2 linked regions of the Homo sapiens genome follow. The protein of the gene in region 2 purifies or fractionates together with the protein of the main gene of each other region. This does not show direct contact. Each region holds a gene or a part of one and is shown on either strand. Other genes may lie near its edges.

Evidence for each region.
Region 1: the proteins of WDR43 (region 2) and WDR75 purify together in Homo sapiens (affinity purification with mass spectrometry; 2 studies listed by BioGRID and IntAct, with this or other methods). This does not show direct contact.

What each region holds. Positions count from the first base shown.
Region 1 is NC_000002.12:189,465,450-189,472,484, reverse strand, and holds part of WDR75 (WD repeat-containing protein 75), read right to left. Parts: intron 6,061-7,035; coding exon 5,903-6,060; intron 5,018-5,902; coding exon 4,837-5,017; intron 4,011-4,836; coding exon 3,916-4,010; intron 3,142-3,915; coding exon 3,046-3,141; intron 2,410-3,045; coding exon 2,240-2,409; intron 1,667-2,239; coding exon 1,607-1,666; intron 1-1,606. UniProt on the Homo sapiens protein: Ribosome biogenesis factor. Part of the small subunit (SSU) processome, first precursor of the small eukaryotic ribosomal subunit.
Region 2 is NC_000002.12:28,890,004-28,897,691, reverse strand, and holds the start of WDR43 (WD repeat-containing protein 43), read right to left. Parts: upstream 3,026-7,688; 5' UTR 2,994-3,025; coding exon 2,769-2,993; intron 1-2,768. UniProt on the Homo sapiens protein: Ribosome biogenesis factor that coordinates hyperactive transcription and ribogenesis. Part of the small subunit (SSU) processome, first precursor of the small eukaryotic ribosomal subunit.

The sequences.
Region 1 (7,035 bases), about 160 Mb from region 2:
AAAACAATAAGAATAATAGAGAACCATTCTAGAAAGTCCAGCACTAAATAATAGGAGTTCTAGAAAAAGAATAGAGAAAGAAGTAATTAGCTCCTCCTTAGTTCTCTACTCAAAACTCTCCAAGGGGCCCTATATGTAACTCAGAGAAAAAGTCAGAATCTTTTCAATAAGGCCTACGTAGACTTCCCTGTTTAAAATTACAAGCTGCATCCCATGCATGCCATCTTTTCGTCTATTCTCTACCCCACCACAATTCTTACCACCTTCTCTACTCCATATTTTACTTAATGCATGTTGTTTACTGTCTCTATCTTCTGGTGGACTGTGAATACCGCAAGTTTAGAGACTTGACTACTTTTCTCACTACTGTATCCCAACTGTCTACAATGGTCCCTGGCGTACAGTAAATAATTAACAAAAAATTATTGAATTAATCCAATGAGTTTTAAAGGAAAATAAACAAGCCAAGTTACAGACAAAGGAACAAGAACAAGAATGGTATTGGTCTTCTAGTAATAATGGAAATTATAAAATAATAGGACAATAATGTCAAAGTTCTGCGAGAATGATTTTCAACCTACAACTCTATAATAATCAAGTGAAAGAGAATAAAAACATTTCCAAACATGCAAGGTCTTAAATTGACCTCCAATGCACTAAAAGAATGCTTCACCAAAACAGGGGAGTGACCAAAGAAAGAGAAAAACCACACCACTAATAGAGTAGAGGTCAAACAAATCCCCAGAATGATGGTGAATATAGATCCTAGGATGACTACTGTGTAGCAGGTTTCCAGAGCAATCAGTCCAGACTGAAGACAGTCAGAAGGCTCTTGGAAATAATCCTTTATGACTTGAAAGAATACCTAATGTATCTGAAAACACTGAGAGAATACTTACACAACTTGAGCAGAATTTGGGGTTGAATTACATGAGAATAGAAAACTAAGCAAATGAAAAAACAAGGCAATCATTAACTCCACAGAAAATAAAAACTTGGTCACAAAAGGAAAAACAATCTGCCTATTACTACATGGCTTGGCTATGAATTGTGTTAACACAGCTATGACAATGACTACTGAACTAACCAATTTAACATTTACCCATATGGGGAAAATTGGGGGACAAGTAGGGAAAGTGTGTGTTGTGTATATGCAGGGAGTGCTGATGTGAAAAACAGCTAAAAATTCAGCGTCAATAGATCAGAGTTAACAGATAATACCTAAATCTGAAAAACCTATAATTAGAAATATAAACATTTCTTAGAGATTTCTTAGAGATTCAGAGTTAAATAAAAACTTCAGCTAAAAGATTTGAGAGTGATTGTCTTTGTGGGTAATGGTAGTGGTGTTGGAGAAGTTTTTTCTGAAGAGCCTTGTAAAAATATTTGACTCTTTAAATCAGAATTATATATTACTGATATTATAAATTAAAATAATTTTAAAAGAGCACTAAAACTTTCAAGAGACACATATCAGTTTATAAGTATATGGCTTTTAATTCTATTTTAGGGCCAAGTGAAATATTTTTTTCATAGTTGACTTCTAAAAGGTAATTGTATCCTTTTAGGGAGGCAATACATCCTGCTATGAATGGCTAAAACATACCTGTTTGCTTGTTGGTGTGAGTTTTTCTTCTGGAGACTTTGTACTGAATGTCAATAAACTCTGAAAAGAGAGAATTAATGATGCAAAAGACAAACTGTAGAGTGCAAATCTAAACAAGGTGTTACAGGGTGTTAAAAAATGAGAAGGTCAAATTTTTCACTTTGATATATATATTTGACAACAGAAAAGGAATAAAAGATTTAAACCTATTTAATAACCACGATGAGAGTTACAAGATTATGTCTGAGAGATACTTAAGAAATGGTAATGAATAAAAAATATAACTGACAGACAAAACTCAAGCCACCATTTTAAAAATTGCAAATCAAACACTGAAAAAAAAAAGAAAAAGAAAAAAGAATCATGCAATTTAAAGTATTTTAGTTGTCTTCTGCTTTTTTGCTGTCACAGAGTTAATACAAGCAATACCTAAGGAACCTCAAAAGTGTGGGGTAAAACGGTAATACATTTACATTAATAATGCTGCTGTACTGAGCATATTAGACAATTTTTTGGGAAATAATCCTTTAATGAAGCTGTTTCACCTAGAAACAAACTCACACCAATAGTCATGGGCTATTAGTCTAAAATTCCATGTACAAAGTGATCGCCTTTTTTGAGGGAGGCAGTTACCTGTGATTTTGTTAGGAAGTAAAACTGGGATCTATTTAGCCACTGGTAAGCTTCTGAGGTGAAGGATTCAGGGACATCTCGTGGAACAAACACTCCCCACTGGACTTTCTCTCTGGAGATACCCTTTTGAATATACAATGGCCTTGGCTCACTAGGTTTAAATACAAACACTAGAGGGAAAAAACAAAGAAACAATAACATTTTGCCTGAAAAGGTTAGTTCTAGCCTCAGACTGGCAGATCACACTAATCCTGGGACTCACCCCATTGAGTAACTGGCCCAAGTCATGACTGTTTTAGGCTTTGATTCAAGAGGTATCTACTGTGTTCCTACTATGGGCCAGGCAGGTTAGGAATGAGGGCTATGAGGATGAAAAACAGAAAGAAGAATTCGTGCTCCAGAGGCCAGGGCCCACTGCAGAAGACAGAAACCAAAATATTATTACAGTAGTATTTTGTCTGTAAGTACTAGAAATGAGATATGTAGAAACTGCTTCAAGAACATAGAGGATGACCAATTAAAGCTTCTCAGGGGCAGTTGGAAATATGTCAAACTGGTGAAATCTCTTGAATTTTAAAGATTGAGTACGAATTGGCTTGTGGAAAAATAAGAAACATATTGGAGCTCTCCTAGAACTAAGTATGGACGCACACAATGACAAAGTGTTGGGGCAAAGAAGGGCCGTGCCTCAAGCAAAATGGCTTCCAATTAACATCTGATGTGAAGGCAAGTTTGGCTCAAATTATATTAAGAAGAAAACTTAGGTCATAGATGTTCTCTTACTACAAAGTGTGGTTTGTACTTACAGTCTGAACCCACTGAAGACTGAGAGATTGCAGCAATATTCTCTGAATTAGGATCGGGTTCCATAACTCTAACATTTAATTTTGCATTCCACTCCACTGAGGGGAAAAACAAAGGTGATTCACTTCTAAGGAAAGATTTACCAAAAGCTTTAAAAAACTTCTCTTATTCTTAGGAAGAGGAATCTTATGCTTCCAACTAACACACATGGAGACACACTGAAATGATTTGTAGAATGCTGCACTAAAGTGAGAGGCCGAAAGAAAAACATACTGGAACTGTAGTGCTCCTTGTACAAACTATGAAAAGATTATTATTTCATTGAAATTTATGTCTAGTGCTTTTCTGATGCTGCTAAATGTGTACAGTATGTTAACCAGAGTTAACTGTAAAGAATACTGAAAAAAGTTACCATACACATTCATTTATAAGCAGCTACTATGCCTTCCAAACATACACTCAAATGGGTAAAATGCCACTAAGTTCACATTTGTTAGGACTGTGATAGACTACATTTGAATTTAAGCTGTCAGGGATAATGTAGATTAGTAAGTATTAAAAATGAGCAGAAAACATTATTCAAATTGTTACGAGGATGGGGAATATGGAGGGCATCAGAAAGTCACACACACTGAAAACAGTAGAAAAAGGTAAGGATAATGGAAGCTGACGTACCAACAATTAAGCAGTTAATAAATAATGTCTATTACAGGCCCAGTATTCCAAATTTTGGTGGCATCATATGTCACGTAAAAAACTGACTATTCCAAGTACAGACCTGATGATATGATCCCTAAGTCCTAAAATGCCAAAGTTTAATGTCAACTCCTTATGCGCTTTGCCAGATCACTTTAGAGTAAAAAATATCTTACATGCACAGCTCAGCAGATTCCAACAGCAAAGAATGCCATTTTCAGTAGCACCAAGTAGATACTTTGAACACGTCAATCTCCCAAAGCAAAGGTGCCTAGATTAAAACCACAAGGAAGTTAGCAACAGTCAGTTCTAGCAAATTCAGTTACAAAGAACTGCAGGCTTCCAGCGGCTGTTCTATGTAATGCAGATTTTTATATAGACATATATATTTTTGTTTATAATTATCCTGAAGAAAAAAGTGTCTAAGGAGTACAAAAGGAAGGGTCTAGTTAGCTATTTCTTTAGGAAAACAGAACGGATGACCAATTCTTTAACACACTGTGCGGTATACCAATTTACATCTAACAGAGAAAATGTACATGAAACGTACAGTCATCTGACAAAAATCCTATTTACCAAGAAGAAGAAAACTTGCGATTTCAATTGTGAAGAAAGTTTTACAAAGTAAATTCAGAATCAGACATGCTGGGAATTAGAGACGATCTCATTAGGCATCTGATTCTGTCCTCAGGCCCAACTACCTGAAGCAGGACCTGAAAATGCTGCTGCTACTTTCCCCTGCACCTCTCGGAAACAATGAGGTTGGCGCATAACACGGTTTTTATGGGAATACACAGAAAATAAGAAGGTTTGGATCCCCTGAGGCTTATGTATAGCTTCTGTTACCATTCAGCACATCCATGAAAGTATTCCAAAGAAAAAATATGTAGGCCAAGAGTTAAATGTTAACCTGAATTTCAGAAATGTTGGCACAGTTTGTGGACTCAGAATTTTTGGCTTTCCAGCATTTTGATTAGCTGCTTGCCCCACTGACCTTCAGGCTACTTTTGGAGAGGGCATAAATGACTACTAAAGTTTTAAGACTTGTTTAAATAAGTTAAAAAATAGTACTACATACTTCCCGAAGATTTACCTACCTTATTTTCCCAGCTCGTTGGCAAAATGTACATTTAAGTTCCCATGTTACAGAATCCCATATTGTGACTATTTCCTCAAAACTAACTGCTAGTAAAGAACCATCTTCGGAGAAACAACAGTTAGTTGCTTGATACTTGTGATAACTACCAACAAAGTCACAGGTCCAGCCAACAGCTTTTTCTGTGGAAATATAAGCCATAATGTTCAGAAATTGTGTAAATGCTAGAGAATGCTACAGTAGTTCCCCCTAGTTTCCCATTATCTGAGGGTTCACTTTCTGTGGTTTCAGTTCCTAGGGGTCAACTGAGGTCTGAAAATAGCTGTGTACAGTACAAAAAGATATTTTGAAAGAGAGAGAAAGGCAGACACAGAGCATGCACATATTCACTTTTTATTACAGTATATTATTGTAATCATTCTATTATTAGTTATTAACCTCTTACTGTGCCTAATTTATAAATTAAACTTTATCTCAGGTATGTATGTATAGGAAAAAAACAGTATATACAGGGTTCGGTACTATCTGCAGTTTCAGGCATCAACTGGGGCGGGGGGGTCTTGGATTGTATCCCCCACTGTTAAAGGGAGACTGCTAAATGAGGGACATTATAAGCAGTAGGGATTAAGAAACAAAGATGCACACACAAATAACAAATAAAATAAAAAAGAAACAAAGACACAAAACAAGAAAACCTGTTCCCCACAACTTCTTTAAGTCAGAACTGCTACAAAATACTGACTGTTCTGAAATTTATGCCCTCTCCTGGAGACCTTGACCTCCCTCTAGTGGAGGAGTGAAAGGACTCTTGGTAAAAGCCCCTTTTACTTTACCCTAAAAAAACAGAATAATCAGCACATGATTAATCAAGAATGCCATTTAAAAAGAACAGATTTGAGGAAAAAGGCATGTAAAATGTAATCTCTTAAATCTATTAAGATTAAGCAATATCCTGTAGAATTCAATAAAGTAGAAAATGTCCTCCCAGGATGGATACAAGTCATGAGAAAAAGAAATTAATTCCTAAAATTGTGCACACTTTAAACATAACATATTTAATAACTTACTGTATATGTCAGAGTCATCTGTTAATATCCATACTTTGAAGTAACCATCTTTGCTAGCTGTAACCAAGGTGGGCTGTTCAGATTTTTCTGCATTACAGAAACAGAGAGCTGTAATGCAGTCTTCGTGTGGCATGTTAATTTTAGTGTTAAGAATAAACCTAGCGGGAAGGAAACCACAAATTTATTCTTGCATGAGGACAAAGTGATGTATATAAGAATTTCTGACATGCTGTACATTTTACAATAGCATCTTGAACAACAGGCAACTGATAATCACGTAGAATGACAAACAATTGAGTGCTCTACCTCTAATGGCCACAGGACGCAAAGAGTTCTAATATATCACCTTTGCCCTTGTGTGACTTTAGAGAACATTCTGTGTAGTAGTCAACCCACTAGTACATTGGTACAAAATGAGGATAATACAGGTCACCAATCAATGATACTCAAAAGCCTACTGTATCAAACTCTGTAGGAAACTTGTATAGAACCCAGATTCCTGCCTACTTTTGAAAATAAAAAATGGAAAGGCCGTGAAACGCCCCACCTGGGGCAAGGAAAAATAGACAGGAAACTACTTAGTCAAACTGGCTGGTCATTATTTACTATTTTTAGTCACCTAAATGACTTCTTAAAGCTTATTTCGAGCTTAGAGGGCAACGCTGTGAATGAAAGACAACTAGGACTGTGTTCTTAAAAGAACATCAAGGCAGCATAGGATTGTGATTTTAAAAAAGCACAAGTTATAACAACAGTGACTAGGGACAACCACTTAATCTCTCTGGGCCTGTTTCTTCACCTATAAAATATAGACAACAGGCTTATCTTACAGTGTTCTTTTGAAGAGTAAGATAATGGGTACAAAGCTCTAAGCCAAGTTCTTGGCACACAGCAAAGATCTGTTAAGTGGTTATTATAGCCACAGTACGAGAGTGGATTCCTTATCTAATCACAACATCCATGCTACATTATACTATGCTACACTTCTACCTACACTCCCTCTTTTCAAAAGGCAGTATGCTGTTAACGGAAGAGCAAGGGAACATTTGGATTCTAACCCTGGATTTGCCTAGAATTCGGTATTATGCCCTTGAGGAGGTGTCACTTTTCCATGTTTCTTTATTCATTATGAG
Region 2 (7,688 bases):
CACTTTGTCCTTGCGTAGCAAACTGCCAATTACTAAACCAAACATAGAATACTTTTCTTACAAATTGATTTACCATATTAAATGCCAAATTAAATGGTAAAACGAGTCCAGATTCACTCAATAATAACATTTATTAAGCCACTTATTACATACTAGGCCATACTACACCAGTCACATACATTGCCTAATTTGATCCTGAGGATCCTAAAAGGTGGGTGATGATACCTCTATTTCAAATTTGAGAGTACTATATGTCATCATATAGCAGGACCTTAACAAAATGCTGGAAAGTGGGTTCAGAGCAACATCCTTTTCATGCCTCATACACTAAGCCTCAAAGATGTAAAATAAAAGGAAGGGTTTAATAAGATGAGAGCACCTTAACATGTGCCTTTTTTTTCTAAGATATCTTGTTACAGTACATATGACTTTTTAATTTTATACCATAATATATGTGCAAGTTTGTTTTAATACAAGAAAACTGTCTCTCCTTAGTTTATAAGTCAAACTGATGCTCCAAGAGGACACACCCTCAAAGTAGGGAATGTCTCTACATTCCTTCCAGCTCTCTCAGTTCTGTGACTCAAGATTGAGAGTAACAAAATCGGGGCACTTGACCAGGAGTTCGGGGCACCATGACTCTAGAGGCCACACTCCTTTATTGGTTATTAAGGCTTGAGTCAAGTCATTTACCTTTCTTAGCTCTGATTTTCAATCAGTTTTTTTAAAATGCAATTAATTTCAGGGGATTCCATAGTCATGTGGTTAAAAGGAGACAGTGCAGATAAAACGATGCTGAAACCTAGAAAAAAATTTTGTTTAATGTAGCTCAACTCTCGTTTGTCAATGAGGTCCTCAAAATTAAAACAACTTGCTCAATATGACAAAGTAAGTTTTGAGTCTGGGCTATGAAACCAAATCCAGTTATTTTTCTAGTTTACCATAGTGTTGCACATAATCCAAAACTATGACTTTTAATATGAGATTAGGAAATTTCTCTTGGGCATACAATGCAACTGAAACTCAACAGAAAAGCAAAGTGGGTGACATTTTTTCCAACCTAATATTAACTATCTGTTGCAGATAACCAAGAACCGAGCTCTTAAGGACCTGAGTTCTAATCCTGGTTCCATTTTTTACTTTATTCAAGTTGCTTAGTTTCCCAGAGTTTCTGTTTCTTTCCCCGAAACAAGGCAGAAAGTTCCTTATCAACACTTCAGGACTAACCACACAAATATCAGATATTAATAATACTTAACACTTAAAGCACTTACCTGTCAAGAACTATTCTAAGTGTTCTCTGCATTATTAAATATATTAACCTTCACAACCACTCTATGAAGAAGATATTATTATCCTCATTTCATAAATGAGGAACCAGAGGGGCAATTACCACTATGAAGCAGAGGCTAGAATCAAATATAGACAATATAGCCAGCTTGGGTCCACGCACCTACCTAACCACTGCTCCGTATTTCTCTCAGCATTAGTATTACTATCACTTTACAGGACTGTTAAAATACAACCACAGAAAACTTTGAAAATAAAAGATAAGCAGAGCGCTGTAATTTTAACAATAAAAACTGATTTTTTTTTTAGTTTTATGTTTGACTTATAAGCCCTGATAGGTTTATTTTATGAATCAACAGGATAAACTATGAAAATGTAGCTTAAAATTTGAAAAATATCTAAACATGCCCAAAGTATAGCAACTTATATGTATCCCTTTTCCCAACCCAAAAATTTAGCAGGCTTCCCAGGTCGTCAGAGAGAGTAAGATCCTAAATAGCTTTTACAGTTCTCCACATTGAAACAGCTCACATCACACACCTCAGGATACCTGATGTTTCCAAATCACTTTGCAGTGATTCGGTTTGGCTACTCTGTAAACGCAATAACCACGTGCATGCTGAGTTAGAGAGATGTAGCTGAGTGACTCAACAGTGAAAGGCATTTACCTGACACGGGTCCCTAACAATGAAAAGCTCTGCCTAACTCGGCAGTTTTCCATCTAAGGGTAATTTCATCTGCACTCATAAAACATTCACTAAATCAAGCTACTACTTCACTTAACCTCCACATCCTAATACAGACTTCAGATTGGGGTGGGTGGGGAGCAGTGTGATCGGCTTGAAAGCGGGGCGGGAGGGGCGAGCAGATGTTAAAATCAAAAAGCAGTGAGTTCAAAAAGCTGAGAATGTAGAGGTGCCTGGGAAAGGCAAAAGTTAAGAGTTGAGAGTCCCACAACCTGGACGGGGACGAGAACACGTGGTGAGCCGGCACCCAAAGGGGGGGCAGGAGGGGGAAGGTCCGGAAGCAAGTACAGACTAGTCCATACCAACTGCCCAGTGCAAAACTGATGAGCCGGATCACAGACAGAGGAAAGTTAGATAGTCCCAAGATGGGGCTCTGTCAAAAACCAGAACTCTGATGAGCCAAGGCCCGGCAGAAGGAAGCCGCCCCAGGGGGACCAGGGGACTTGGCGAACATGGCTGCCCGTCAACAGTGGGGCCCAGGCCTCATTGGGCCAGCCGGCAGGGCTCGGATACGAGGCCGGCCGGGTCGAGCTGCGCCCTCCCTCACTGCCCTCGCGGCAGGCCGCACGCGGGGCTGGCGGCTTGGGCCCTGAACGCGCCGACGCCGCCTCCAAGCCTTCTGGCCCGGGCCGCTGAGAGCCACGCGCGATGCCGGACCACGCGCCACCCGGCCCGGAGGCCCGAAGCCGAGCCCGGGAAGGCGCCCGCCCCGCGCAGTCCCGCTCGCTTTACCTTGGCCTGCAGCCGCGCTGGCGCCCAGGCCAGACAGGTGCAGGTACCACTGAGGTGCGCGGAAGGCACGTACTCCTGGTGCAGCCGGTTGTTGGCCGTCTCCCATACTCGTAAGTGACCGTCGGTAGAGGCCAAAGCGAAGTAGGCCTGGCTGTGCGGGGAGAAGGCGCAAGGGACCCCAGCAGGGGCCAGGGGGTCGCAGCTACCGCCGCCGCCCGCCGCCATTGCTGCTCTGGCCCCGCTGCAGCCACGTGTTCGTCCGTGCGCAGGCGCACCGGCGCGGGGCGGAGCCTGGAGGAGGAAGTGAGGCGGAGGGAGCGCCGGGGGCTCAGGGAGTGGATCTTCGCGTCGCAGGAGAGCTTCTGGCGGATCCGCCCTGTGGACGGTGGCCCGCTAGGGCCTGTCGCTATCTTGTTCTGGGCGGGAGTGGGAGTATGGGAGAAAGTAATTGTAGAATTAAGATCAAGTCCTGTTCCTTTAAAAAAAAAAAAAAAGGGGGGGGGCCGGGCGCGGTGGCTCACGCCTGTAATCACAGCACTTTGGGAGGCCGAAGTGGGCGGATCCCCTGAGGTCGGAGTTCGAGACCAGCCTGACCAACATGTAGAAACCCCCGTCTCTACTAAAAATAAAAAAATTAGCCGTGGGCTGGGCGCGGTGGCTCACGCCTGTAATCCTAGCACTTTGGGAGGCCGAGGCGGGTGGATCATAAGGTCAGGAGTTCAAGACCAGCCTGGCCAAGATGATGAAACCTCGTCTCTACTAAAAATACAAAAAAATTAGCCGGGCTTGGTGGTTGGCACCTGTATGTAATCCCAGCCACTCGGGAGGCTGAGGCAGAGAATTGGTTGAACCCGGGAGGCGGAGATTGCAGTGAGCCGAGATCGCGCCCCTGCACTCCAGCCTGGGCGACAGAGCGAGACTCGTCTCAAAAAAAAAAAAAAAAAAAAAAAAAAAAAAAAAATAGCCAGGCGTGTGGCGCACGCCTGTAATCCCAGCTACTCGAGAGGCTGAGGCAGGAGAATCGCTTGAACTCGGGAGATGGAGGTTGCTGTGAGCCGAGATCGCGCCATTATACTCCGGGCAACAAGAGTGAAACTCCGTCTTAAAAAAATAAATAATAAATAAATAACAATTTTTTAAAACTTTAAAGAAAATGATAAGGTAGAACGAAAGGTTTGAAGGAAATCTTCAGCCGAGCGCGGTGGCTTACACCTATAATCCCACTTTGGGAGGCCGAGGCGGGCAGATCGCCCGAGGTCAGAGTTCGAGACCAAGCTAGGCAAAATGGCGAAACCTTGTCTCTACTAAAAATACTAAAATTAGCCGGGTGTGGTGGTGTGTGCCTGTAGTCCCAGCTACTCGGGAGACTGAGGCAGGAGACTCCTTGAACCCGGGAGGTGGAGGTTGCAGTGAGCCGAAATCGCCACGCCACTGCACTCCAGTCTAGGTGACAGAGCGAGACTGTCTCAAAAAAAAAGAGAGAGAAAAGAAGTCTTCACTTTCAAATTGATAATGATTGTAACAACTGCTTCCGTTTCCCCCTATTCAATTCCAGGCTGTAATCATTTACAAAATAACAATGTATTCAGTTATAATAATGTAAAAGTAATGATCGGAACAACTATTCCCTCCTGTTTCTCCAGATTTATCTCATGTTGCTACATCAAATAGACATTTTTAGGCACACGCCCATAGTCTGGAGGCTGAGGGAGGAGGATGGCTTGAGCCCACGAGGTCGAGGCTACAGTGAGCTATGACTGCTCCACTGCACTCTACCCTGGGTGACATAGTGAGATCCTGTATCCAAAAAATAAAGGGTAGATTTTTATATTTCTCCTAAATATTCACCAAATCAATGCATTCTAATTCAAGGAATGCTAGGTACTGTTCAGCCCACACAGAGCCTATTGCCTGCCAGGAAAGATAAAAACCACTCTCATGGCCATGGGAAGGCTCAAGCTTTTACAGCTACGGAGCAGCATGGTAAGATTTGCATTTTATTGTTTTCTTGTTTGTTTTTGTGTTTTGAGACAGAGTCTCACTCTGCCCAGACTGGAGTGCAGTGGCACAATCTCAGCTCACTGCAACCTCCACCTTCCGGTTCAAGTGATTCTCCTGCCTCAGCCTCCCAAGTAGCTGGGATTACAGGCGTGTGCCACCACGCCTGGCTAGTTTTTGTATTTTTATTAGAGATGGGGTTTCACCATGTTGGCCAGGCTTGTCTGGAACTCCTGACCTTAAGTAATCTGCCCGCCTCAGCTTCCCAAAGTTCTGGGATTATAGGCGTGAACCACTGTGCCTGACCAATATTTGCATTTTAGAAAGATTACATGGAGACAGTGTAATGAATGTATTAGAAGGAAGCTAGGTTGGAGGCTCGAAACCCCAGGTGGAGATGATGGTGAGTGGCTTGGAGAAATAGCGATGCAAGGAAGTTTCAAGAGTGTTTATTATGTACAATGAGCCGGATTTCAAGTGGCCAAGGGAGAGATAGAGAAACGGCCAAGGATTACTCATTGAGCTTTTACAGGGAGAGACTGGTTGGTGACCCAATTCACTTAGGATAGTGAATCCTGGAAGATTTTTGTGCAAGAAGATGATAGTGTCTTTAGTCTGGGAATGCTAAATTTGAGACATCTAATTTGGCACTTGGATTCATTCAGTTACTCAAACAAACTGAATGCCTGCTATGTGCCAGGCACTGTTTTAGGGTACCAGGAATCTACCAGTGATCATGAGAGACAAGATTCCTGCTTTCATGAAGCTGACATTCTAATCAGGGAAGCACATAATAAACAAACAAAGAAAACTCTATTTCAGCTAGTGCAAGCTGCTATAAAGAGAAATAAAGCCGGAGGAGGGAAAAGAGTTTAAGTATTGAAAGGAATTAGGGACAGCCTCACTCAGACCATGCAATATCAGAAGGAAGAGCAGTCAACCTGGGGAGAATAGCAAGTGCAAAGACTGAGGCAACAAAGACCTTGACTAGTGGAAAGAAAAAGCTTTGGAGAAACTTAGGGTAGATAGTGACAACTAGAAAAATCAAAGGTAGCAGCTGAGTTCAGAGGGAGCCAGACTATTTAGTACCTTGTAAATCAGAGTGAAGTATTTGGATTTTATTATAAGTATGATAGAAATAAGCCACTGGAGAATTTTAATGTTTTTTTTTAAGAGGTGGGGTCTTTCTGTGTTGCCCAGGCTGATCTTGAACTCCTGCACTCAAGGAATCCTCCTGCCTTGGCCTCCCAAAGTGCTGGGATTACAGGTGTGAGCCACCACATCCGGCCCCCTGCAGTTTTGAGCAATGAAATAACATGATCTGATTTATATTATTGAAAGACATCCTGGCTGCTAGATGAAGTCTGTAGGCAAGAATAAAAGCAGAAAGACAAGGTAGAAGGCTGTGGAGTAGTAGTCGGGACAAGGACAATGATTGGTAGGACTCTGATGAAAGCAATGAAGGTAGCGAAAAATGATCAGATTCCAGATATAATCTGAAGTTAGAGCCAACAGGAATTGCTAAATGAATTGACTGTGAAGGGTGAGGAAAACAGATGAATGAAGAGTGACTCTGATGCCTGGGCAAATAAGTGAATAGTGATACCATTAGCTAAATTGGGGAAAGAGTTTTGGGTGGAATGGAGATCAATCTTTGCACTTGCTGTTCTCTGCACACTGACTGCCCTTCCTTCTGACCTTGCAGAGCCAGAGTGAGGCTTTGCCTAATTCCTTCGAATACTTAAGCTCTCATTTCCCTTCTCTGGCTTTGTTTCTCCTTGTAGCAGTTTGCACTAGCTGAAATAAAGATTTTTTTTTTTCTTTTTCTTAGATGGAGTCTCACTCAGCAACCCAGGCTGGAGTGCAGTGGCACGATCTCTGCTCACTGCAACCGCCGTCTCCTGGGTTCAAGTGATTCTACCGTCTCACTCTCCCGAGTAGCTGGGATTACAGGCACCCGCCATCATGCCCAGCTAATTTTTGCATTTTAGTAGAGACGGGGTTTCACCGTGTTGGCCAGGCTGGTCTTGAACTCCTGACCTCCGGTGATCCGCCTGCCTCAGCCTCCCAAAGTGCTAGGATTACAGGCGTGAGCCACTGCACCCAGCCTAGAGATTCATTTTTAAATGTGTTTATTATCTACTTCCCTGACTAGAATGTAATCAGTTTTGGACAGTTAAGTTTGAGATACCTACTATACATTCAAGTAGGGTTGTTCAATAAGCAGTTAGATATATGAGTTGGGATTTGGAGAAAACATCACAGTTAGAGATATGAATTTGGGATGCATTAGCATACAGCTGCTATATGAAACCACGGGACTGGAAAGATCATGTTGCGTGTTAGTATAGGTAGAAAAGAATTTAGTCCCAAGCTGTGCCAATCTTTAGAAGTCAGGGAGAGGAAGAGGATTTTGCAGAAGAGATTGAGAAGAGATAACAGCAAGGCACAATGAAAACCCAGGAGAAGGAGGTGACCCAGAAACCAAATTTTTATAATTTCAGAAGCAAGACATGATAAAGCCACGTCAAATGCAGCAAAGATGAAAACTAAGAATTAACTAGTAGACTGGGAAGATCAGGGTCATTGGTGCCTTCAAAAGCGTTTTTAGGCCAGGCACAGCAGCTCACTCCTGTAATCCTAGAACTCTGGGAGGCCAAGGCAAGAGGATCACTTAAGTCCAGGAGTTCGAGACCAGCCCAAGCAACATGGAGAAACCCCATCTCTACAGAAAAATTAAAAATTAGCCAGGTGTGATGGAGTGTGCCTGTGGTCCCAGCGACTTGGGAGGCTGAGGTGGGAGGATCGCCTGAGCCAGAGAGGTAACGGCTACAGTGAGCAGTGATCTTGCTACTCCACTCCAGCCTGAGCAACCAAGCAAGGTCTTGTCTCAAAACAACAACAGCAACAAAACATTCTTAG